4 linked regions of the Homo sapiens genome follow. The protein of the gene in region 4 interacts with the protein of the main gene of each other region in a pairwise test. Each region holds a gene or a part of one and is shown on either strand. Other genes may lie near its edges.

Region 1 (7,227 bases), on a different chromosome or scaffold from region 4:
TGAACTCTGGAGACAAGGTCTCTGTTCATCTTTATGTCCCTCAGCATCTATGTCCTCTTTTGTACATCAAGTGCAATCAATACATGCTATATTGAAGGGCTTCTTCCACCACCAGCAGTTCACCTTGGAATCAGTTCCTAGGAGGCAGGAGCTAGCACTGTCTCGGAGATGGTGTGTGTGCCAAGCCTTCATTTTATTCTCTTTTCAGAGAGGAGGGGGAGAAAGTATTGAGACTTTGCCTCAGTGTCCTCCTGGGGCTCAGTTTTCCTTGGCAAACTGGGAAGTGGGAGATCCCAGGAAGGGAGTATTTCCTTTTTTTCCCTCATTTCCCTCTGGGCAGTTATCCCTGGAGTTTTTGGTTATGTGAGCCAATAAATCCCCTCTCCCTTAAGCCATTTGAGTTTGGTTTTATCACTAATTCCAGGAAAGTCTTGCCTAACACATCTGTGGTCATAGAATACCAATCCCCACTCTAAGGGGTGCCACTGGCTCAATGCCTAGCACTTAAAACCCAGGGTGACCACCTCAAGAGAATAATGCCAACATCCACTGACCACTTCTGAAGTGACAAGTGTTCAAGTTTTATATATTCTCATCTGCTGTCTCTTGGCCTCTTTTCAAACTACCCGTGTCCTTATCTTTTTTTGAGACGCGTTCCAAATCTGCCGCCCAGGCTAGAGCGCAGTGGCGCGGTGTTGGCTCACTGCAACCTCCGCCTCCCAGGTTCACGTGATTCTCCTGCCTCAGCCTCCTGAGTAGCTGGGATTGCTGACGCGTGCCACTATGCTCGGCTAATTTTTGTATTTTTAGTAGAGATGGAATTTCGCTATGTTGGCCAGGCTGGTCTCAAACTCCTGACCTCAGGAGATCTGCCCGCCTCGGCCTCCCAAAATGCTGGGATTACAGGGCGTGAGCCACTGCGCCCGGCCACCCCAGCATTTCTAATCATCCAACCTACAGACACTCATGGGAGAGATACAAGAATGCTCATTAAGCATTGTTTATAATATGAAAAAATGGAGACAAACTGAGGCTCTTCCAGTAGGAAACAGGTATACCATGTCAGGAACCACTGTATGTAGCTGGAAAGATTTCACTTTTCCCACTTGTGTGCTCATGGGCAAATGTTTAATTCTCCAACACCTTAGTCTCCTCCTCTGTGAGGATAATGATAGGGTCTGCTCCAAAGGCTGTTTTGAGTGAAGAGTACCTGGTGCATAGTGCACTGCTTAATAAAAGTTGTGGGTGATCTTTGTTATGTTTATATGAACAGACATTGAAAGATATGCATACTACACTGGCATGTAAAAAAAGCAAGCTACAGAATGAAATGTTTGTCAAATACATGTGCAAAGATTAGGTCGAATTATATGAAACTAGTATTTCAGTAGGTCAAAACAATCAAGTGTCAGAAATTTCATATGGTTCAACCTGTTTATTTGTATACAGAAAGAATCTAGAAGACTCACAAACTGTTAACAGTGATCACCTCTCCAGAGTGAGGGGAGAAACTTTCATCTTTTTTTTTTTTTTAAGACAGAATTTCACTCTTGTTGCCCAGGCTGGAGTGCAATGGCGTGATCTCGGCTCACCGCAACCTCTGCCTCTCGGGTTCAGGTGCTTCTCCTTCCTCGGCTTCCCGAAGAGCTGAGATTACAGGCGCCCGCCACCATGCCTGGCTAATTTTTGTATTTTTAGTAGAGACGGGGTTTTGCCATGTTGACCAGGCTGGTCTCAAACTCCTGACCTCAGGTGTTCCGCCCGCCTCGGCCTCCCAAAGTGCTGGGGTTACAGGCATGAGCCACCGCGCCCGGCCAACATTATATTCTTCTTTACTTCAAAATTTTTTTGGGCCGGGTGCAGGGGCTCACGCCTGTAATCCCAGCACTTTGGGAGGCCGAGGCAGGTGGATCACCTGAGGTCAGGAGTTCGAGACCCACCTGACCAACATGTTGAAACCCTGTCTCTACTAAAAATACTAAAAATTAGCCAGGCATTGTGGCAGGCGCCTATAATCCCAGCTACTTGGGAGGCTGAGGCAGGAGAATCAGTTGAACCCAGGAGGCAGAGGTTGCAGTGAGCCGAGATTGTGCCATTGCACCCCAGCCTGGGCAACAAGAGTGAAACTCCATCTAAAAATTAAAACAAAAACAAAAACAAAAAAACAAATTTGGCCAGGCGCAGTGGTTCACACCTGTAATCCCAGCACTTTGGGAGGCCCAGGTGGGCGGATCACTTGAGGTCAGGAGTTCAACACCAGCCTGGCCAGCATGGCGAAACCTCATCTCTACTAAAAATACAAAAATTAGCTGGGTGTGATGGCAGGCGGCTGTAATCCCAGTTACAGGGAGGCTGAGGCAGGAGAATTGCTTGAACCTGGGAGGTGGCGGTTGAGGTGAGCCAGGAAGGATAGTGCCACTGCACTCCAGCCTGGGTGGCAGAGTGAGACTCTGTCACACACACACATACACACACACACCCCCACAAAAAAAAAATTACCACTAACATGTTTTAATTTTATAATAAATTCATTTTTATTTTTGTTTATTTATTTAGAGACGGGGTCTCACTCTGTTGCCTAAGCTGGGGTGCAGTGTCACGATTTCTGCTCACTGCAGCTTCCGCCTCCCAGGCTCAAGCGATCCTCCCACTTCAACCTCCCGAGTAATTGGGACTACAGGCATGTGTCACCATGCTCAGCTAAGTTAAAAAATTTTTTTGTAATACCAAAATTAGCCGGGTGTGGCGGCACACTCCTGTAGTCCCAGCTACTCAGGAGGCTGAGGTGGGAGAATTGCTTGAGCCCAGGAAGTCAAGGCTGCAGTGAGCTGAGATCGTGCCACTGAACTCCAGCCTGAGTGACAGATCCAGACCCTGTCTGGAAAAAAAAAAAAAAAATTCTTTTTTTTCATAGAGATGAGTTCCCATTATATTGCCCAGGCCATGGTGGCTCATACCTGTAATCCCAATGCTTTAGGAGGCCGAGGCAGGAAGAGCCCTCCTGGGCTCAAGAGATCCTCCTGCCTCGGCCTCCTAAAGTGTTGGGATTACAAGTATGAGCTACCACAGCGCAGCCCCGAATTTCTTCATTAACATTATATTCTTCTGTGTGTTTTCTTTTTTTAAACCAGGAGAATATATTGTCTTTAGGATAAAATTTAAAACAATAGGGATGAAAAAGGGTGCCATTAACCCAGTTATTAATTTGCCCTATTAAGTTGCTCTATAATAATATTCTTTTGCTGTTCACTGTTTGTGTGAGCATTTCTGGGTGTTCTACATTCCTTGAGGGCAGCAATGACTCTAATCTCAACCTTGACTCCAAAGATAGTATAATGTCCCCCATTCACTGAATGTTTCTGACTGACTCCTAAAGTCTAACTCAAATGCTCCAATGGTTTCCCATAATTTTCAGAGTAAAAGTTCGAGTCCTTCCACAGGCCTCCAGGCCCCATGTGACCTGGCCTGCTGCACCTTCTCTGACCTCATCCCTCTTGTTTACTTGCCTCCAGCCATTCTGCCTTCTTAATGTTCCTCCAGCAGGTCAGGCATATTCTTGCCCAAGGGCCTTTGCACTTACTGTTCCTGCAGCCTGGAATATTTCTCTCCAGGTCACTGCATGGCTCAAACCCTTTCCTCCTCCCTGTTTTTACTTAGATGACACCTTCTCAGGGAATATATATTCCCTGACCAGGTGGAATATCCTCTGATCACCTTATCTTTTGAGACTGGGTCTCACTCTGTTGCCCAGGCTGAAGTGTAGTGGCACAATCACAGCTCACTGCAGCCTCGACCGCCCTGGCTCAGGTGATCTTCCCATATCAGCCTCCTGAGTAGCTGGAACTGTAGGCGTGCGCCATCACACCCGGCTAATTTTTGTGTGTATATGTGTGTGTGTGTTTTCTTTTTTTTGCAATGTAGTTTTGCTCTTGTGCCCAGGCTGGAGTGCAATGGTGTGATCTCAGTTCCCTGTAACCTCTGCCTCCCGGGTTCAAGCAATTCTCCTGCCTCAGCCTCCTGAGTAGCTGGGATTACAGGTGCCTGCCACCAACATCCAGCTAATTTTTGTATTTTTAGTAGAGATGGGGTTTCAACATGTTGGCCAGGCTGGTCTCGAACCCCTGACTTAGGTGATCCACCCGCCTCGGCCTCCCAAAGTGCTGGGATTACAGGCAAGAGCCACCGTGCTGGGCCTAATTTTTCTATCTTTTGTAGGGACGGGCTTTCACTATGTTGCCCAGGTTGGTCTTGAATTCCTGGGCTGAAGCGATCCACCCGCCTCAGCCTCCCAAAGTGCTGAGATTACAGGTGTGAGCTACCCTGCCCGGCCTGATCACCTTATTTAAACCTGTAACCCAATCCTGCCTGACCTCCATGATCCCTACCCATTTCTGCTTTATTTTCTTCCATGTCATGTATCATCTTTCATCATATTGTACATTTCATTTAGTTTATTATCTGCCTCCTCTGACTAGAATGTCAGCACCACAAGGGTAGAAACATTTGCGTTTTTTTCACTGTGGTATCACGGGGCCTGGCACCTAATGGATGCTCATTAAGTATCTCTTGAATGAACTTAAACACTTCATGGGAAGAAGCAGACAAAATACAAAAGCCAGACAGAGATTGACTAAATCCCAGTGAGCATATTAACCTTACTGGGCTTCAGTTTTCATCTCTCTAAAAAGGGAGTCTTAGGAGAGGACCTATGAATGCCCTCCCCGACCCAGGACAGAACCTGCCACATAACAGCACAGTTATTTGAGCTTAGTTCTGTCGCCCTGTACTGTCCCTAAGACCTGCACCTCACCTGCACTTTTGCCATTGGATCCTGAAGAACCCAGGGCAGAGACTCTGACCCCCGCGTGCTGTCAGATAGTAGGACAAGGAAGAATTAAATGCCCAGACACTCAGGGCCTCTCTCCAGAGAGCTGGGCCGACCTCAGACTGTCAGCTTCCTGTGCCTGGGTGCGGTAGGGGTTGGGGGTGGAGAGAGGGTGTGACTAGGGGAGGGGTCATGCTGCAAAGGAAATGGCAGTGACAGAGGAGTTGTGAGCAGGAGCTCACTTGCAGATCTCCATCAGTCCTCAGCCCTGGATCAGGGGACTCTCATTATCCTCATTTTAGAGATGAGGAAATCAAGGCTCAGAGAGAGGAAGCGTCTTGCCCAAGGTCTGACTCCAAAGCCCTGCTCTTGATCTCTACAGTGCACTGGCCCTGGCTGAGCACCACAATCACCCAGAGAACTGGTGAAACTGAAACATGCCCGCCCAGCCCAGACCTACTGACTCAGAGTTTCCAGGGGTGGGGTCCAGGTGTATTTTTCACAAGTTGCCATTTGGGTTTCCTCAGAGAGGACTCCCACAGTCTCCACAAACCCAGGGAGCCTCTGGCCTCTGAGTTGGCAGTCACTGACCTTTGAGATGCTTCATCTATTCACTCTTTCCTCTGGAGGCATGTAGGGGAGTAGTTCTCCTCTCAGGACTTGGGGGATCCTCTAAAACTCAAGTGTGGGGATTGGGGATCCTAAAAACTCAAGTGTGGGTGTCAGGTCCATGTTGGCAACAGTCAGCAAGAACTGATTCTGTAGTTTCCAGCCTTCAGGATCCCCAGGGTTTGGGAATCCATAAAAGCACCCAGCAATGATTTCAGAAAGAATTCTCTCCTAAATTGACTTTTTTTTTTTAAGAAAGAATCTCACTCTATTGCCCAGGCTGGAATGCAGTGGTATAACCATGGCTCACTGAAGCCTTGACCTCTCGGGCTCAAGCGATCCTTCCACCTCAGCCTCCAGAGTAGCAGGAACTATAGGCAGGAGCCATCATGCCTAATTTTTTTCATTTTTTGTAGAGTTGGGGTCTTGCTATGCTGCCAGGGCTGGTCTCAAACTCCTGGACTCAAGTGATTCTCTTGCCATGGCCTCCCAAAGTGCTGGGATTACAGATGTGAGCCACCTTGCCCAGCAAGGTCTTTAAATGAATCTAGGTTCCAAGTGATCCTTTTAAAAGACACAGATCCAGCCAGGTGCAGTAGCTCACGCCTGTAATCCCAGCACTTTGGGAGGCCAAGGCAGGTGGATCACCTGAGGTCAGGAGTTCAAGACCAGCCTGGCCAACATGGCAAAACCCCGGCTCTACTAAAAATACAAAAATTAGCTGGGCGTGGTGGTGGGCACCTGTGATTCCAGCTACTTGGGAGGCTGAGGCAGGAGAATCACTTGAACCTGGGAGGTGGAGGTTGCAGTGAGCTGAGATTGCACCACTATACTCCAACCTGGGTGACAGAGCAAGACTCTGTCTTAAAAAAAAAAAAAAAAAGACACAGCTCCTTTTAAGAGTTACCAAATGTATTCTAGTGGGTTACTAGAAAAGCATAACTACTATCATGGAGGAACACTGGAAATTTTAAAAGGTGGGAATCTTTGGATTAGCTGTGTCACCTGCTGAGAGCAAGAAGGGGCTGTAGGGGTTGGGTGTGGGCATCAAAGGAGACAGAGGCCCAGTTAAGGGAAAGGAGAGGCTGCATCATAGACCAATTTTACCTACTTGAGGTACAGAATTTATTCTTTAGTTTTGTAGGACAGCTTGGTGATCAACCCCCTGGTTTATAGATGAGAAACTGAAGATGGACAGTGACTTGCTTAAAGTCACCCAGATGGGGAGCAGTACGGATCCAAGCCTGCGTGGTTCTGAGTCAAGTGCTCTGCACATCATTAAATCATCCTCCCCTCCCTACCCACAAATCCTAGCCTGGGGAGACCAGTAGCACACAGGGGTCAGGACAAAGCTAATGATCCTAGCCAGCCAGCAGGTTTTTGGACTGGAGCTGTTCTTAACTTTTCCTCCACTAAGGAGAAGGTGGTTGTCCCTCTCCAGAGGAGGCAAAACCTGAAGCTCATTGATTCTCAGTGGGCAAGAGTCTCACTCTGGGCTCCAGGACTGCCCTGAATATCAGCTGGAGGTGCAGGAGACTGGAAGGCCCCTGTCTACCCTCCCTCCCTTCCCCCAGCTCCTGCCAGTCAAGGAGGAAGTGGTAGGCCTGGTGCCACCCAAAGATCCTCATCAAACCAGAGACACACTGCTCCATCTACATACCCCTTCACCCCACTGCCTGATAGTCAGTGGGGAAGGAGGCCAAATTATCAGCTGATCCTCCACTAGTTCTAAAATCAAAACTGCTCCCCTGGGTAAGAGGGTGTGTTCAGTAGGACACACATCATTCCCAAGG
Region 2 (3,192 bases), on a different chromosome or scaffold from region 4:
AAAAAAAAAGGCTGGTGAGGTGGCACGAGCCTGTAGTCCCAGCTACTGGCGAGGCTGAGGCGGGAGAATCGCTTGAGCCAGAGGCTGCACTCTAGCCTGGGCAACAGAGCAAGACTGTCTTCAAACAAACAAAAACCCCAACAACACAGGTTCATATCCTGTATATCCTACCTCCCCAGTGGGTAGTGTGTAACCTTGGGGCGGGTCCTTTAGTATCTTAACCTGTAAAATGGGAGCAATAAAAGCCAACTCTATTTTTCATATGATCTGTCATCAAACTCCATCGCATTCTGCCATGTCCTTACATTAGCTGGGTAAGGAAACTACAAATGGGCAAAGGGAAGACGGGCAGGGTACATGGTGCTCCCAGGTTGGTCTTATCAAGCCTGGCTCTATACTGTTATGGGTGAGGGTTATCTCGTCCTTTTTTCCTACACCCACTTCTAGAGCCCTTGATGTTCTGTCAATTCCCACAAGGTAGAGGGCACAGCAGGTTCACCATCTGTGTTTACTACAAACTGTTTAATTGTTTCTTATCCCAATAACTTTACAAATATAGAACCACATGCTAGTCTGGGGGTGCTGTGCAGTGAGTCACTACAAACTCGCTCAGGCACAGCTTAATGCCGCTGAGATCCATCTAGGAGCAGTCCCAGCGGTGGCCTCAGCCACGTGAGGAAGAGGGCTTTGGAGGAGGGCTGCCAAGTGTGGCCAGGGGACCCGGCCTCAGGTCTGTGGAGGTGCTTCAACAGCACGATGCTCATTCTCTGTCCGTAGTGTCTCCATATACTTTCTCATCTTCTCCACCATCCAGGAGGGTAGGACAAAGGATTTCAATTCCTCTAGCTTCAGATCCAGGCATCCTCTGGAACAGACATTGAAGAGAGAAGTTGGGGGAAGTGAGGATGTAGGCCCTGCCTCATTCTAGGGGCTATTTGGAGGCAGGGAGAGGAGAAGGGGCAGGAGACCCACTGGTTTTACCTGTAATCATCACTGGCCGCAAGGTCCCGGATGTCCTCCTCGATGAGGAGGTAGGCCTGAGGCAGGAGCAAGGGAGAGTGGTCATTGCCTGATTCATTTCACTCCAACTCAGTAACACTTCATTAAACATCTGTTTAATGTAAGGCCTGCTACTAGGTGGAAGCGGGGGATGCGGTTTACAATTTAGTACGGAAGAGTAAGTGGGGAGGGATGGGAATGGTTCCTTGAGACAATCTTTTACTACAGTAGATGCTTCATGGATGGGAGAGTAGGGACTGGTGACTTATTTATAGCCTTCTCTTTTAAAAAAGGACCCATTTCTCTCTTGAATGGTGTGGTGAAAATTAAGAAAAAAAAAAAAAAAAGAAAAAAAGAAAAAAAAAGGGATCCACCATTGCTCCTACACCTTTTGGTTAAGATCAAGTATACGAAAGGACCCAAGGTGGGTTATAACAAAATGGCAAGAAAGCCAGCAAAATATATATGGAAACAGGAAATCAGGAAGAGGAAACCATGTGCTCCCTCTGAGGACAAAGATAACTTGGTTTTGAACTTTGTGGCAAAATGGAAAACATGATAAACTGCTCTGCTGTCTAGTAATTGGCCTGTATTGTACTGGGGCCTGTAGAAATGCTTTGTCACAATGCCTCGGTCTACAGTGGGTGAGGGCCCTTTTGTGAACTTAACATATAGGAAGAGATATTCATCATATTAGAAAGTCTTCTGTGGGAGACTTTCTAATGTTAGGGTCAGGAATAATTGTGTATTCCTTGAGTAATTTGTCTACATCTTATGGGCACTATGAACCATAACAGATCAGGTGTCCATGAGTGGGGCCTACAGCTGAATTTGCCAACATCTGTAGAAGTGCACAGGTCTCCCAGGTCAGCAATATAAAAAACACTTTTTTTTTTTAAAGAACTACTTTTACTGGTGGCTTAATTTTAGGTCCTGCCCCCACCCCCTACCATCTATTTCTTATTTATGTAATGTTGCATTTTATGTGCATGAAGCTTACCTGAAATCTTTTTTGAAGTAAAGCATAGGCATAAATAGAGTAGTAAAATAAAATAAAAGGTAGCTCTCACTGCCAGAAAGGAGATGGCATATCAGTTTGTAAGGCACTTAGATTCTAAAAGGAGCAGTACCTGTGGTGGGAGTGAGTGAGTCCTCAGGTGGGGGACATTGTGTGTGATGGACAAAGCCCTCAACAATAGTTTTTGAACACATGCAATGATGATTTTCCTAAGGTTGCTGTTTCATATGATCTGAGAACTCTTCAAGTAGAGGTAAATCTGGAAGGGGCTGCCAAGTGTGCAAACACATTTCATTGCTAACTCCTACTGACAAGGGTTGCTGCCTCAAGTACTGTGTTGAGAAAAGATTCTATAGCTGTGTCTGGTGGAAGAGTGATCAATGAGTGAAATCTGTCAGTGGGTGCAGTAGTGGGAAAAAGTAGTACTGTGTGTCTTATACCTGCTATTCCTATGGACAGCTAATAGTATCCAAATATGTGATCTTGGAGGCATGAGGTAAAAGTGTGAGGGGGCGGAAGGGAGACCTAGGGATAGGGAAGGGAACCTGAAGATTACAATTTGCTCTTCAGCATGAAGAAATAGGCCTTATAAGTCTCTCTTCTCACACATTGGTGAGGCTTTGGAAGTCAGATTTGGAGGTAGGCTGTCACCCACAGCCAAAATCCTGGTTCCCAGGTGGGGTGGGTCACTGGCAGTGGCACAAATGAATAATGCTTACCATCTTGCCCCCTGTTGCCCGCATGTGATGCTGCTCAGCCAGCCAGTGCTTATCCTGGGGGTCAGCTGCATACTGTAAGGAATGAAGTTGTAAGAAAATTAGCCTCGGGTAAGGGGCTTTTCTCATTTGGTCCCAGAGCATACTCTTGGCCCTTGAGCAGTTCTTACCAAAAGTCCTTGTCTCCAAGCGTGGTGGACTTAGAGGGCTCACTAATCTCTTCAGAGAAAGCTAAGCCAACCCCGAGGGCAGACCATGGGACCCAATTCCCAGAGACTTAGTATACTCCCAATCCCCACCCCCTTCTCACAACAAAGCACCCCGGGCAACTGGTGGGACTGATAACTATTATTTTAGAGCTTCCTCTTTTTAAAAAATGATCGGAGGTGGCTTATAACGTCTGTAATTATTATGGTGACCATAATAAAACAAAAATCGGGACACCTCATGTACTCTCGG
Region 3 (8,046 bases), on a different chromosome or scaffold from region 4:
GAGGATCCTTTTTTTTTTTTTTTTTTTTTTTGGAGATGGAGTTTTGCTCTTGTTGTCCAGGCTGGAGTGCAATGGTGCCATCTCGGCTCACTGCAACCTCCGCCTCCTGGGTTCAAGAGATTCTCCTGTCTCAGCCTCCCGAGTAGCTGGGATTACAGGCACCACCACCATGACCAACTAATTTTTTTATTTTTAGTAGAGATGGGGTTTCATCATGTTGGCCAGGCTGGTCTCGAACTCTTGACCTCAGATGATCCGCCCCTCTTGGCCTCCCAAAGTGCTGTGATTACAAGCGTGAGCCACTGCGCCCGGCCAACTGTGTGTGTGTGTTTTTTTTGTTTTTTTTTTTTTGAGACGGAGTTTCGCTCTTGTTGCCCAGGCTGGAGTGCAATGGCGCGATCTCAGCTCGCTGCAACCTCTGCCTCCCGGGTTCGAGTGTTCTCCTGCCTCAGCCTCCCGAGCAGCTGGGATTACAGGCGCCTGCCACCACACCTGGCTAATTTTCGTACTTTTAGTAGAGAAGGGGTTTCACCATGTTGGCCAGGCTGGTCTCGAACTCCTGATCTCAGGTGATCTACTCACCTCGGCCTCCCAAAGTGCTGGGATTACAGGTGTGAGGCACTGCACTCGGCCTAAGGACAGGTAATTTTTATCAGCCATGAACTATGAAACATAAAAACAGAAACCAAGTGGTCCTAGGCTGCTGATACCTTCTCCCTTAAGTGAGCCAAGATAACAGATGAAAAAGTGAAAACAGAGTTACAGCAATGTCTAGTACCAAAAAATCCATGAACACAGGTGTGGAATCAAACCCTTGGCTAATAATGGTTTGAAAGCAAGATCTGGTTGTAAATTCAACAGGGCTATATAATCATCTTGCAATTTCACATACAACCTGTAGGAGCTTGTTAGGTTACCAGAAGGTTGAGAGGAACAAGGCCAACATGACAGCTTGCAATTTTCCCTCTGCAGTTAACTCATATCTGAATGCCGACTATTATGCCCTTTGCAAAAATGATCTCCCAACATTTTCTCATCTTCATGATGCTCACTTCACAATGCAAAGCTAGAAGTTCAGGGTGATTTTCTATCTAGAAAGAGCCCAAATCCTCAAAAAAAAAAAAAAATCATTAATAGTTCAACTAGGTTGAGGTGGAATAAGCCTTTTCCTAATTTTGTATTTCATGCAAATCAACTAATAGAAAAACTACTTCCAAATCTAAATTCTAGTTAAAAAAAAAATGACTGTAGACACTACATAGAACATTTTTATCTGACAGAAATAAAGAACAAATAGTGGGTAGTTATTATATGGCACTGCTTTAAGGTATCAAACGTCAGTCACAGATCTTACAGTGTTCAGGAAAACAAACTAGTACTAAAAAATAATGACCATTTATTAGATGTCCACAAGGGGTTACTGTAAAAAGAAACTTGTAAGTATGCCTGACCACTAGGTACGGTACTGAAGCTGCAACAGAAAACATGGCACAATGAAAGCATTTTAAGTTTTCCCAGATTTGTAACTAAAATGGCTTCCTGAGGAAGTGAATCTTCGAGCTAGGTATGAACGAAGAGCCTTAAAAAGTGGTCTGATGGTGAGAGGCTGTGTACGGCCTTTGGAATTGCAGAAACCCTACCTCCAACAGGCTAGAACAAGGTAAAGAGAAAGTGGCTCTTCAAGAAAAAAAACCCCAAAGAATGACGATTGGTTTTCTGAGCACTGACTTTCAGCCTGGTACCTTAGCCTTTCAGGTTAGTCCTAGGAAGCAGCAGGTGAGGAAGAGGCTCAGCAGAGCAGTTCCCCCACGGCCCTAGCCCTCCCTCCACGACTTCCTTTTCCACCAGGACTGAGTTCCAACTCCTAGAACTGCCCGCCCCGGCCAGAATGATGACGGAGAATGCCAAACACATAAGTGCTTTTTCATCGTTGTACTTCCACTTAAAAAATCCTGACAACTGAGTTCAAGACCAGCCTGGCCAAGATGGTGAAACCCTGTCTCTACTAAAAATACAAAAATTAGCCAGGCGTGGTGGCGGGCGCCTACAATACCAGCTACTCGGGAGGCTGAGGCAGACAATTGCCTGAACCCGGGAGACGGAGGTTGCAGTGAGCCGAGATCGCGCCACTGTACTCCAGCCTGGGCGACCAGAGCAAGACTCGCCTCAAAAAAAAAAAAGAAAAAAAAAAATCCTGACAACCACCAGACTGTCTCCTGGAGACCAGAGAAGTGAGTGACAGAAAGATGAAAAGGTACAAGAACGCGTTTAACTTAATATTCAGTTTGTACAATAAACAACAAAAACTAGTTAACTACAATTAAAAATGGTTGTCCATCACTCGAACAACGAGAAACGGTAGCTCTTACCTTCCTATTAATGGCCAAAAGGAAACCTAGCTGCGACTTCCAACCCCGGGCCCCCGCCTCTTTTTCAATTCCAACCTAAGTTTTCAGGAGTATGCTTAGGTGACGCGAGGCTTTATTCTGTTTTGAAAGGGATTCACTGAGAAAGCGAAAGGTCCACGCTCTGATATCCAGCCGGAGAGTAGTAACCGCGTCTCCGAGAGGCGCGGACCAGACCGCGAGTCCAGGCTCCGCAGCGTTCGGGCGCCCGTCTTCTCCTCCCAGCGAACACGCACCCGCTGGGGAGTCCGCGCCGCTCCGCGGGGAGCCGGGCACCAGCGCAGGCACCGGGAGGCCAACGAGGCGGCGGCCAGCGCCCTCCCGCCCCGGGCACGCTCTCCCGCAGGAAACAGCTGGCTCGGGACGCCACGGAGCGCCTCTGGGAGGAAGCGCTAGGCACGCGGTGTCCGCACCGGGCGCGCCCCCATCCCGGGCCCGTGAGGGAGGGGGAGCGGCCGGGGCCCCGCGTCCCGACGCCCGACGCACGGGGTCCCAACGCGCGGGCAGCGGTCAATGGCCGCGAACTTCACGACCCCAGCCCCGCGGGGCCTGGCTCAGGGTCCCAGCCCCCGAACCCCGCCACGCTCGGGCCGCGACCGTTACGGGGCCCTCACCGACCCAACGCCCATCCCGCTACGCGCCGCCCCCTCGCTTACCTTCTTAGGGTCCGGGTTCGCGGCCAGGCGCGCCTGCAGCTTCTCCACAACTTGGAGCGCCGACTCCGCCGCCATCGCTGTCACTGGCGCGGCCTCCTCGCCGGAACTGGGCTCGCGTCGCGTCCTCGGGCCGCAGCTCCGCCCTCCGTGCATCCCCGGCGGAGACGGAAGCGCGCCTGGCCCCTTCCGGGCCTCGGCTGGGGTGTGTGGGGGGCGGTGGGCTGCAGGCTCCGCCCCCAGGGCCCGCTCCCCAGCGCCCACCCGGCGGCCGCGCACTCCTCGCGCCCCTGGCCCAAGTGTGCGCGCTGGGGGCTGGGGGCTGCTCGGGCCGTACGCGCCTCCGCCGCCGGCACCCCCGCTCCCTGTGCTCGCGTGCTGAGCCCAAGCCTGGAAGACCTCTCCAGGGTCTACTTCAAGACGGAATGAGGCCACCGCGCCAGACCCTGGCCTTATAAATGCCAACGCTTTCTCCCGCCTGGGGCTTAGCCACACCCTAATCAACACCTTGTCAGGGGTCCCGGGCTGGTGCCCGTCCTAGGAGTCCGCAGGCACCCGCGGTAGCAGCCACCCTAGGCTGAGCACACGATGCGTCAGTAGTTAGACTATCTTTTCCAGCCTCAGTACAACCTGATGAAACGAGTTGTATGATCTTCATTTTACAGATGAGGAAACTGAGGTTCAGGGAGACCAAATTAACTTGCAGATGGCCGCAGGACAGGAAAGAACTGAAAATGGAACCTGAATCTAAGATGTCTAGGACCATTGTGAGCGCACATTTCTGAACAGGTCGAGGAATTGAGGCCCAGAGAAAGGGATTTTTCAAAATCCAAACAGCTTAGTTCCTTCCATGAGGCAATAATAGCCCATGTGTCTTGTTTTCCCCACAAACAGTGTCTGGCACATAGGCACTAAATAAATACTTATTGCATGAATGTATAGATAGATAGATGTTTCCTCTGATGACTTGCCAATGAGCCGTATGGCTTGATTAGAAGAGCCCAAGATATTATTCTTCAGGCCGTCTACTCTCATCCTAAAAGCACTAAGTTTTACCATTACTAATACTACTACTAAAAAGAGCAACTAAATAGTTGCAAACTCACTTAAAGTACCAGCACTGATTACATCTCATTTGATCACATCAAAGCAGAACCTAATCAGATCTTCAGCAGCAAATTGGCAATGCACCTAGCCTGATCTCTCCCTCAAAGCAGGAAAGCCCAGAGATTCTTCCAGATTCTAGCTCTGGAAGAAAGAAAAACATCTTAAACACAAGTTGTTTCTTCAAATGAGCATTCATTCACTCACTATGCTGAAAAGCCCTCTCTACCATGTCCCTACTCCTCCATTTGGCGCCCCTCCCCCAGTTCCCTAAGCAACTGACCACCTTTTCAGGGTGTAAATGGTCAGTTTATTTATCTGTCTTGCCACTGGGCTGTTTATTTATCAAGTACAGTAACCGACCTGTCCAACTTTGAATCTCTGCCACCTAGCATCATCTAGACCTTATAATCAGCATTGGATATAAAGTCCATACAAGACTAATGACCATCCACTTGGTACCCTAAGGCTCAACTGAGGGATGTTGTAGAAAAGGCATTGAACTGGGTGTGAGAAAACTTCGATTCTAGTCCCAGCAGTAGTGTCTCCCTCCTCTGCGTAGCAAATACTTTTACATTTTATATTCCTTCCATTTTGAAAATGTACCACTGGTGTAATGGAATACAGACTGATTCTTGAAGCAGAATTGCTGAGTAATTGGCCTGGCACATACTCGGGACACATGAAACATTCTGCAGATGTTATCCAGAGAGAGCTCAATAACCAAAATGAAAAGAAACAATGAGGTTGGGCACAGTGGCTCATGCCTGTAATCCCAGCACTTTGGGGGTCAAGACGGGAGGACTGCTTGAGCCCAGGAGTTTGAGACCAGCCTGGGTAACGTAGTAAGACCCAGCCTCTACAAAAAATACAAAAATTTTAAAATTAGCCAGGCATGGTGGTGCGTGCCTGTGGTCCCAGCTACTTGGGAGACTGAGTTAGGAGAACCATTTGAGCCCAGGAGATCAAGACTGCAGTGAGCCATGATCGCACCACTGCTCCAGCCTGGGCAACAGAAAAAACAAAACCAAAAAAAAACAGAAAGAAACAACGAATGCTTCTGGGGGATCCTGGAGTGGGTGTGCTGCTCCCAGACAGCCACCCCTATGTCAGACTGAGTCAGGCTTACCTGCAAAGTACTCTTACATTTGGATATATGACTTTTTTTTTTTTTTTTTTTTGAGACAGAGTCTCACTCTGTTACCCAGGCTGGAGTGCAATGGCGAGATCTGGGCTCACTGCAACCTCTGCCTCCCAGGTTCAAGCAATTCTTCTGCCTCAGCCTCCCGAGTAGCTGAGACTACAGGCATGCGCCACTACGCTCGGCTAATTTTTGTATTTCTAGTAGAGACGGGGTTTCACCATATTGGCCAGGCTGGTCTCGAACTGTTGACCTCAAGTGATCCACCCGCCTCAGCCTCCCAAAGTGCTGCGATTACAGGCATGAGCCACCACGCCTGGTCTGGATATATGACTTCTAGGATGAGCAGCTAATTATACATGTGTAATTCTCTGATTTTTTAAAAAAACTTTTCAACCACTTCTAAAATTGGTACTCTGTATGTATTCACTGGGGGATTACCATTGTAACCCTTGGTTTACACACGAGTGTTCAACACAGGAATGAGATCCCTAAGGTCAGAGGCTATTTACCCATCTTCAATCAGCAACATTTAGCACATAGGTGAGATTCAGTAAGTTTCTTGAAAACTGAAATAATTATTATTAAATTTAAATTATTAAATATAAGGCTAGCCTGACGTGTCATCTGAAAACCTAAGAGGGGCTCCTCAGCTCTCTTATCAGCACTACAGAGCCCTCTGCGAGAGTAACTAAAAGACCCATCCTATTCTGTTTGGGAGATGAATTCAAGGCTATACTAGGGGAGGAGGATGGGCAAGGAGGCTCTCATCTGCTCCGTACACTTTTTTGAATTTTTGCAGCAAGTATAGTCTACTCAGTATAGTCTCGTTCAGTCGCCCAGGCTGGAGTGGTGACGCGATCTCGGCTCACTGCAAGCTCTGCCTCCCGGGTTCATGCCGTTCTCCTGCCTCAGCCTCCTGAGTAGCTGGGACTACAGGCGCCCGCCACTACACCCGGCTAATTTTTTTTGTATTTTTAATAGAGATGGGGTTTCACCGTGTTAGCCAGGCTGGTCTCGATCTTCTGACCTCGTGATCCGCCCGTCTCGGCCTCCCAAAGTGCTGGGATTACAGGCATGAGCCACCGCACCCAGCCCTTACTTTATTTTTTTTTGAGACAGGGTCTCACTCTGTTGCCCGGGCTGGAGTGCCCTGACACATTCACGGCTCACTGTCAGTCTTGACCTCCTGGGCTCAAGTAATCCTGTTGCCTCAGCTTGGGACTACAGGTGTATGCCACCATGCCCAGCTAATTTTTTTATTTTTATTTTTTGTAGAGAAAAGGTCTCACTAGGTTGCCCACGCTGGTCTTGAACTCCTGGGCTCAAGTGATCCTCCCGCCTTAGCCTCCCAAAGTGTTGAGATTCCAGGCATGAGCAACTGCACCCAGTCTGGTCTATTTTTATAATGAAAATAACTTAAAGGTATTTTAATTTTGGAAAAGAGTAATCCTAGGCTGGCTAGCATTAGAGAGATTTAAAACACTGAAAGACAAGTTAAAAAAATTTTCAGGCCGGGCGCAGTGGCTCATGCCTGTAATCTCAGCACTTTGGGAGGCAGAGGTGGGTGGATCACCTGAGGTCCGGAGTTCGAGACCAGCCTGGCCAACATGGTGAAACCCCGTCTCTACTAAAAACATGAAAATTAGCCCAGCGTGGTGGCACCTGTCTGTAATCATAGGTACTCAGGAGGCAGAGGCAGGAGAATTGCTTGAACCCAGGAGGCAGAGGTTGCAGTGAGCCAAGATTGCGCCATTGCACTCCAGCCTGGGCAACAACTGTCTCAAAAAAAAAAAAAAAAAAAAAAATTGGCCGGGTGTGGTGGCGGGTGCCTGTAATCCCAGCTACTTGGGAGGCTGAGGCAGGAAAATCACTTGAACCCGGGAGGCGGAGGTTGCAGTGAGCTGAGACTGCGCCATTGCACTCCAGCCTGGGCAACAACTGTCTCAAAAAAAAAAAAAAAAATTGGCCGGGTGTGGTGGCGGGTGCCTGTAATCCCAGCTACTTGGGAGGCTGAGGCAGGAAAATCACTTGAACCTGGGAGATGGAGGTTGCAGTGAGCTAGACTGCACCATTGCACTCCAGCCAGAGCAACAAGAATGAAACTGTCTCAAAAAAAAAAAAAAAATCAACCATCTTGTCCTCATAGCAGAGAGGAGCCCTTTCATAAAACAGTCAAGTAAGATTCTGCGGGCCTGACAGTGTGCTAAGTGAGGCATGGTGGCTCAAGCGGGCTTCCTCCTTGGACCTCTTCTGCCGAGAGGTCTGCCACTCTATCTTAGCAAGTAGGCAGCATCTGAAGTTGCTTGGATGGTGGTGTAAAGAACAAAGCTTGGAGCTTAGTGACAACCTGGGCTCCAATCCCAATTCCACCAATGCTAGCCATGGCTCCTGATCAAGTTACTTAAACTTGCTGAAATTTTTTCCTCCTACTGTATAGATATCCTGAGGCTTATTAATATGTCAAGTAATTGGCATATAATAGGTCTTTTTGAAAAGGCAGCAATTATTGGGGAAAATGCATTGCCTTGGTAAAGAAAATATAATGTGCTGCTGTAAAGCAAGATATAAAATCCTCCATCTGGCAAGTTTTTTTTGTTTTTGTTTTTGTTTTTGTTTTTGTTTTTGTTTTGAGACAGAGTCTCGCTCTGTCAGCCAGGCTAGAGTGCATTGGCAGGATCTTGGCTCACTACAACCTCTGCCTCCCGGGCTCAAGCAATTCTCCTGCCTCAGCCTCCCCAGT
Region 4 (4,438 bases):
CAAAATTATCTATTGGACATTTGATATTAAATAATTGTTAACATTGGAGAGTTTTTTGGTATGATGATATCGTAGTTATGTTTTTAAAAATAGCCTTTCTCTTTTATAGGTACATACTAAAGTATTTATGGATGGAAAGTCAAATGATGTCTGGCGTTTGCATCAGTGTAATTTAGTAGGGAGGGACACTGGGAGAGTAGAAATAAAAGATTGGCCATTAATTATTTGTTAAAGATGGACAATGGGCACATGAGTTCATTATACTATTCTATGTATTTTTTGAAAATGTGGGCCAGGCGTGGTGGCTCATGCCTGTAATCCCAGCACTTTGGGAGGCCGAGGCGGGCGGATTATGAGGTCAGGAGATCGAGACCATCCTGGCTAACATGGTGAAACCCCGTCTATACTAAAAAAAGTACAAAAAATTAGCCGGGCATGGTGGCGGGCGCCTGTAGTCCCAGCTACGTGGGAGGCTGAGGCAGGAGAATGGCGTGAACCCGGGAGGCGGAGCTTGCAGTAAGCGGAGATGCACCACTGCACTCCAGCCTGGGTGACAGAGCGAGACTCCATCTCAAAAAAACAACAAACAAACAAACAAACAAACAACCGAAAATGTGAAAAAATTTTAAAGTTATTGAAGGAAATGCCACCTCCTCAGAGGCCTAAGAACTCTGCCTCCCTGGTAGTCATCTCTGGGTGTGGTAGTCATATGTCCCAGATTTTCCAAAATAGTTTAATTTTCAAATATTCATCCTTATTATTATCACCATAAGCTACTGAAATGTTCCAGAGATTGTCACACTAGATGTAGCAAATCCTAGTTTGGAAAAGTTAGTTATCATGCAATGAAGAAAACTATGGGGAAGCAAAAGCAGTGGTGTCTGTCTCGATAAGCTTCATACAACAGGTCAGAGAGACTTGCTTGCCCTTTTTGCTGTTATAAACACCCACATCTACCTTCTTGTCCTCTGCTGCAGACTCTCTACCAACAACGGAGGCATATGGGATTACCCAGTGGGAGAGAAGCATGGACCACTTCTAGATAGATCATCTTCAAGATCTGATCTATACATGCTGCTGAAGGATGGACTGTAGCTTCCAGTACGCATTAGGGGTGATGGCCCTGGAAAATGTATCCCTGCATTGTTTCCTAGTTTCACTCTGTACCTTATGCTCCCCCCATCTTTACCCTATTCACCCTTATCACCTCCCAGGACAGTGGTCAGGTCTTACAAAAGGCTAGTGCTTCAGGAAGATGTTTATATCTCTTCCAGAAGACACTGGTAGCTCCCCTCATTTCCTACAATTTGGAACAAAGGTCAAAAAAATAATTCTTGGCATCATGCTTGGTTGGGAGTTGGGAATGGGGATTGTGATGGATCATATACTCATCACTGTTTCATTTCTGGATTTCATTTTTAGCTTTGGATATACTGTCCCATTGCCAATGTTAACGAGCAATATCTCTGTTCTTTTCCTTATTATACTTTTTTATTTGTCTATTATTTCCTCTATGCTTAGTTACTATTAAATGTTAATTTTCCTTTCTATTGAAAACAACTGTTGGAGACACTGATTTTCAGCTTAGTATATAGATAGTAAAATAAAGACGATGCCCTTTTATTGCTACAATTCTATCACTTTTACAAGCTCTAGAATGGTGGAATGGGCGAACAACACTATCACTGAGATCAAACATGTATTCTACTTTGGGTTTTAAAAGGCAGAAATGACGAATTAAATAGGTTAGCCACTCACAAGCTGGCCTTAAGCAAAAATACTGGAAAAACAGAAAATAGCAGGCATCTGCCAGAAATAAATTAGGTCTTGGGAATGATCTTGTATCTGAACTAGGATCCCCATACCCTTTCTGGTACTCTGAATTTATTTTAAAGGCATTTCTAGATACCTTCTCTTTTAGGCAAGGGCCTGTCCTGTAGCAAATGGAGTTACCTCCAAGACTGTTGTATCTCTGTTACTCCTGAAGCCTCAGAAATTTTAGTCATTATCATTTGATGGCTGAGAAACAACCTGGCTGGCGATAGATGCTGAACTACTTCCTTTTTACAGTTTTTGTTCTTTTAATTTACCTCAATAAGTCCTGCCCCTCCAAACAATAAGTTAAAAGTATGCTGAGTTAGAATGTTAATGGATTTGGTTCCATTAATCCCTAAACCATAGGAGTGGCAAAGTGGTTGAGAGAGAAACAATTTTATTTTTGGCCTTTTTATTATTATTCTAGCATTTTAGGGCTTCCACTCTTTTATTTTTAGATGGTTAACTCATTGATGATACCTATTTGCCATATAGCTGATCCCAACTGATGAAAACCATTCTAAAACATCAATAATTAATTCACTTAAAGACGATGGTCCCTCTGTCCCTAAGACAGATCCTATCAAGAGAGGGAAAAGTCTCTTTTCTGGAAACAAATTGACAGCAAAAAGATGAAAAATTAGTCTCTGTCAAGCTGGACAGGAGGTAGTTAACAGGTTTGTAAAACCAAACCTGAAACCTACCTTCACTGCCCTTCAACAAGGAGAAACTATTCCCTCTCTTTCACCCCTTTGTAACACAATTCTACTGTTTAAAAGGACATCTTCCCTAATTACCACCTCCAATAAATATCCATTCTAAATTATTCTCCACCCAATTATTAAAGTTTTTTACAAGCTCGGTGGGGGAAGATTTTCCCTGAGACAAACAATGAACAGAGTGAGGATTTTGGAAAGATAGAAAAAGCTACAAGGCAAAGTGGTCACAGCATAAGAACTGAAAATAGCCGGGCACGGTGGCTCATGCCTATAATCCCAGCACTTTGGGAGGCCAAGGTGGGCGGATCATGAGGTCAGGAGATCAAGACCATCCTGGCTAACATGATGAAACCCGTCTCTACTAAAAATATAAAAAAGTAGCCGGGTGTGGTGGCAGGTGCCTGTAGTCCCAGCTACTCGGGAGGCTGAGGCAGGAGAATGGCATGAACCTGGGAGGCGGAGCTTGCAGTGAGCTGAGATTGCGCCATTGCACTACAGCCTGGGCGACAGAGCAAGACTCCACCTCAAAAAAAAAAAAAAGAACTGAAAAATTCTGCCACCTGTGATTTAGTCATGAAGCGGGTGAAACATAGTCAAGTTGGTATGAGGAAAAGGAAATATTAATATTTGTGATGAGACTGGGACTTATTGAGAATCTTGGTTGTCTAGGAAATGATCAGTTACTAAGAAAAAAGTAAGAGAGTCAGTTGCATTACGCACAGACTTGTGCTCAGAAAAGGGGTACAAGGCAGCCTTATATTCCAGGTAAGATGGTGGGATTGGGGATGCACTGGAATCATCAATCAAATCAGAATCCTTTACTCCTCCTTTCCAATCCTCCTGGAGAGGTGGTGCCAACATCTGGCCTCTGTATAGTACACCAAGGGAAAAAAACAGCAGACACGAGGAGAGCAAGAGCAGCTTCCCAGCCCATGGTTTCCCCAGATCCTTAGCACTCCCTACCCTAAGGTTAGAGGGTTGGATTTCTGCTGATCCAATCCCAGCCTTACTTAGTGCCCTATGGTCATTCTCCCTGGTCCACCCTCACTATATCCCCCTGCCACCCACCCTGAAGAACACAAAGCTTTTTAGTTCTCTGCCACAAGGTAATTTTAAAAATGTGGTTTCTTTGTTTAAACAGTTACTAAGTTGGTTCATCTTTCAGTAACAGACCTCCCCTCCCCCAGCTCCCCACTCAGTCTTGTATGATCACATCATCATCATCATCATCATCATCTTCCTCCTCCTCCTCCTCCTCTTCCTCATCATCTTCTGGCAGTTCTTCCTCCTCCTCTTCCTCTTCTTCATCTAGACAAACTACCACCTCAGCTGGCTGAGGTAATCGAGAGTCAAACCAATCCAGCACCTGCTGGGTGCTAAGCCTTGATGCCTGACTCAATTGAGGGATATCAGTTTCCCGTAGCTGTTGGTGGGCTGCCCAGTACCTCTCCAAGGGTTGTATATCCGGTGGGGGTGGAGGGATCGGCAGAGGTGGTGTCTCAGCCCTTTCGTTCAAGGAGCGGGTTGATGGTGGTGGTGTAGGAATTGCTGGGTCTTGGAAACTAGGGGCACCAGGTACTGCGTTGTCCCGAAACCACTTTAGTTGCCCATGCTTCAAGGCATAGCGTGTGTCACCAAACCACTGAATGATCTCAGGCCGAGGTAAACCAGTGATCTGTTCTAACTTTTGGTAATCCTCACGCCGTGCCCACTGGCACTGTAAAAAAAAGGATTTAAGGATAGCCAGCTGCTCTTTGGTTTTGCGCTTGGTCTTTCGCTGGCGTTGCATATCTGGGGAAAGGTACTCTGTGGGGCCAACTCTACCTGGTACTGAGTTATGCCGTAGCCCTTGGGGCCAGGCTGGTTCCAGATGTGGGGGTAATGCCTGTTCACTGGGTGACACT

Evidence for each region.
Region 1: the proteins of HOMEZ (region 4) and DEF6 interact in binary tests that used the Homo sapiens proteins (3 or more experiments, as listed by UniProt).
Region 2: the proteins of HOMEZ (region 4) and DNTTIP1 interact in binary tests that used the Homo sapiens proteins (3 or more experiments, as listed by UniProt).
Region 3: the proteins of HOMEZ (region 4) and ELOA interact in binary tests that used the Homo sapiens proteins (3 or more experiments, as listed by UniProt).

The regions. Positions count from the first base shown.
Region 1 is NC_000006.12:35,300,818-35,308,044, reverse strand, and holds part of DEF6 (differentially expressed in FDCP 6 homolog), read right to left. Parts: intron 1-7,227.
Region 2 is NC_000020.11:45,808,730-45,811,921, reverse strand, and holds the end of DNTTIP1 (deoxynucleotidyltransferase terminal-interacting protein 1), read right to left. Parts: intron 2,809-3,192; coding exon 2,737-2,808; intron 1,038-2,736; coding exon 982-1,037; intron 866-981; coding exon 727-865; 3' UTR 504-726; downstream 1-503. UniProt on the Homo sapiens protein: Increases DNTT terminal deoxynucleotidyltransferase activity (in vitro). Also acts as a transcriptional regulator, binding to the consensus sequence 5'-GNTGCATG-3' following an AT-tract.
Region 3 is NC_000001.11:23,738,594-23,746,639, reverse strand, and holds the start of ELOA (elongin-A), read right to left. Parts: upstream 3,170-8,046; 5' UTR 3,137-3,169; coding exon 3,062-3,136; intron 1-3,061. UniProt on the Homo sapiens protein: SIII, also known as elongin, is a general transcription elongation factor that increases the RNA polymerase II transcription elongation past template-encoded arresting sites.
Region 4 is NC_000014.9:23,271,846-23,276,283, forward strand, and holds the end of HOMEZ (homeobox and leucine zipper protein Homez), read right to left. Parts: coding exon 3,730-4,438; 3' UTR 1,047-3,729; coding exon of another isoform or gene 978-1,046; 3' UTR 577-977; downstream 1-576. Other genes in the region: E3 ubiquitin-protein ligase RNF212B, read left to right, coding at 978-1,046. UniProt on the Homo sapiens protein: May function as a transcriptional regulator.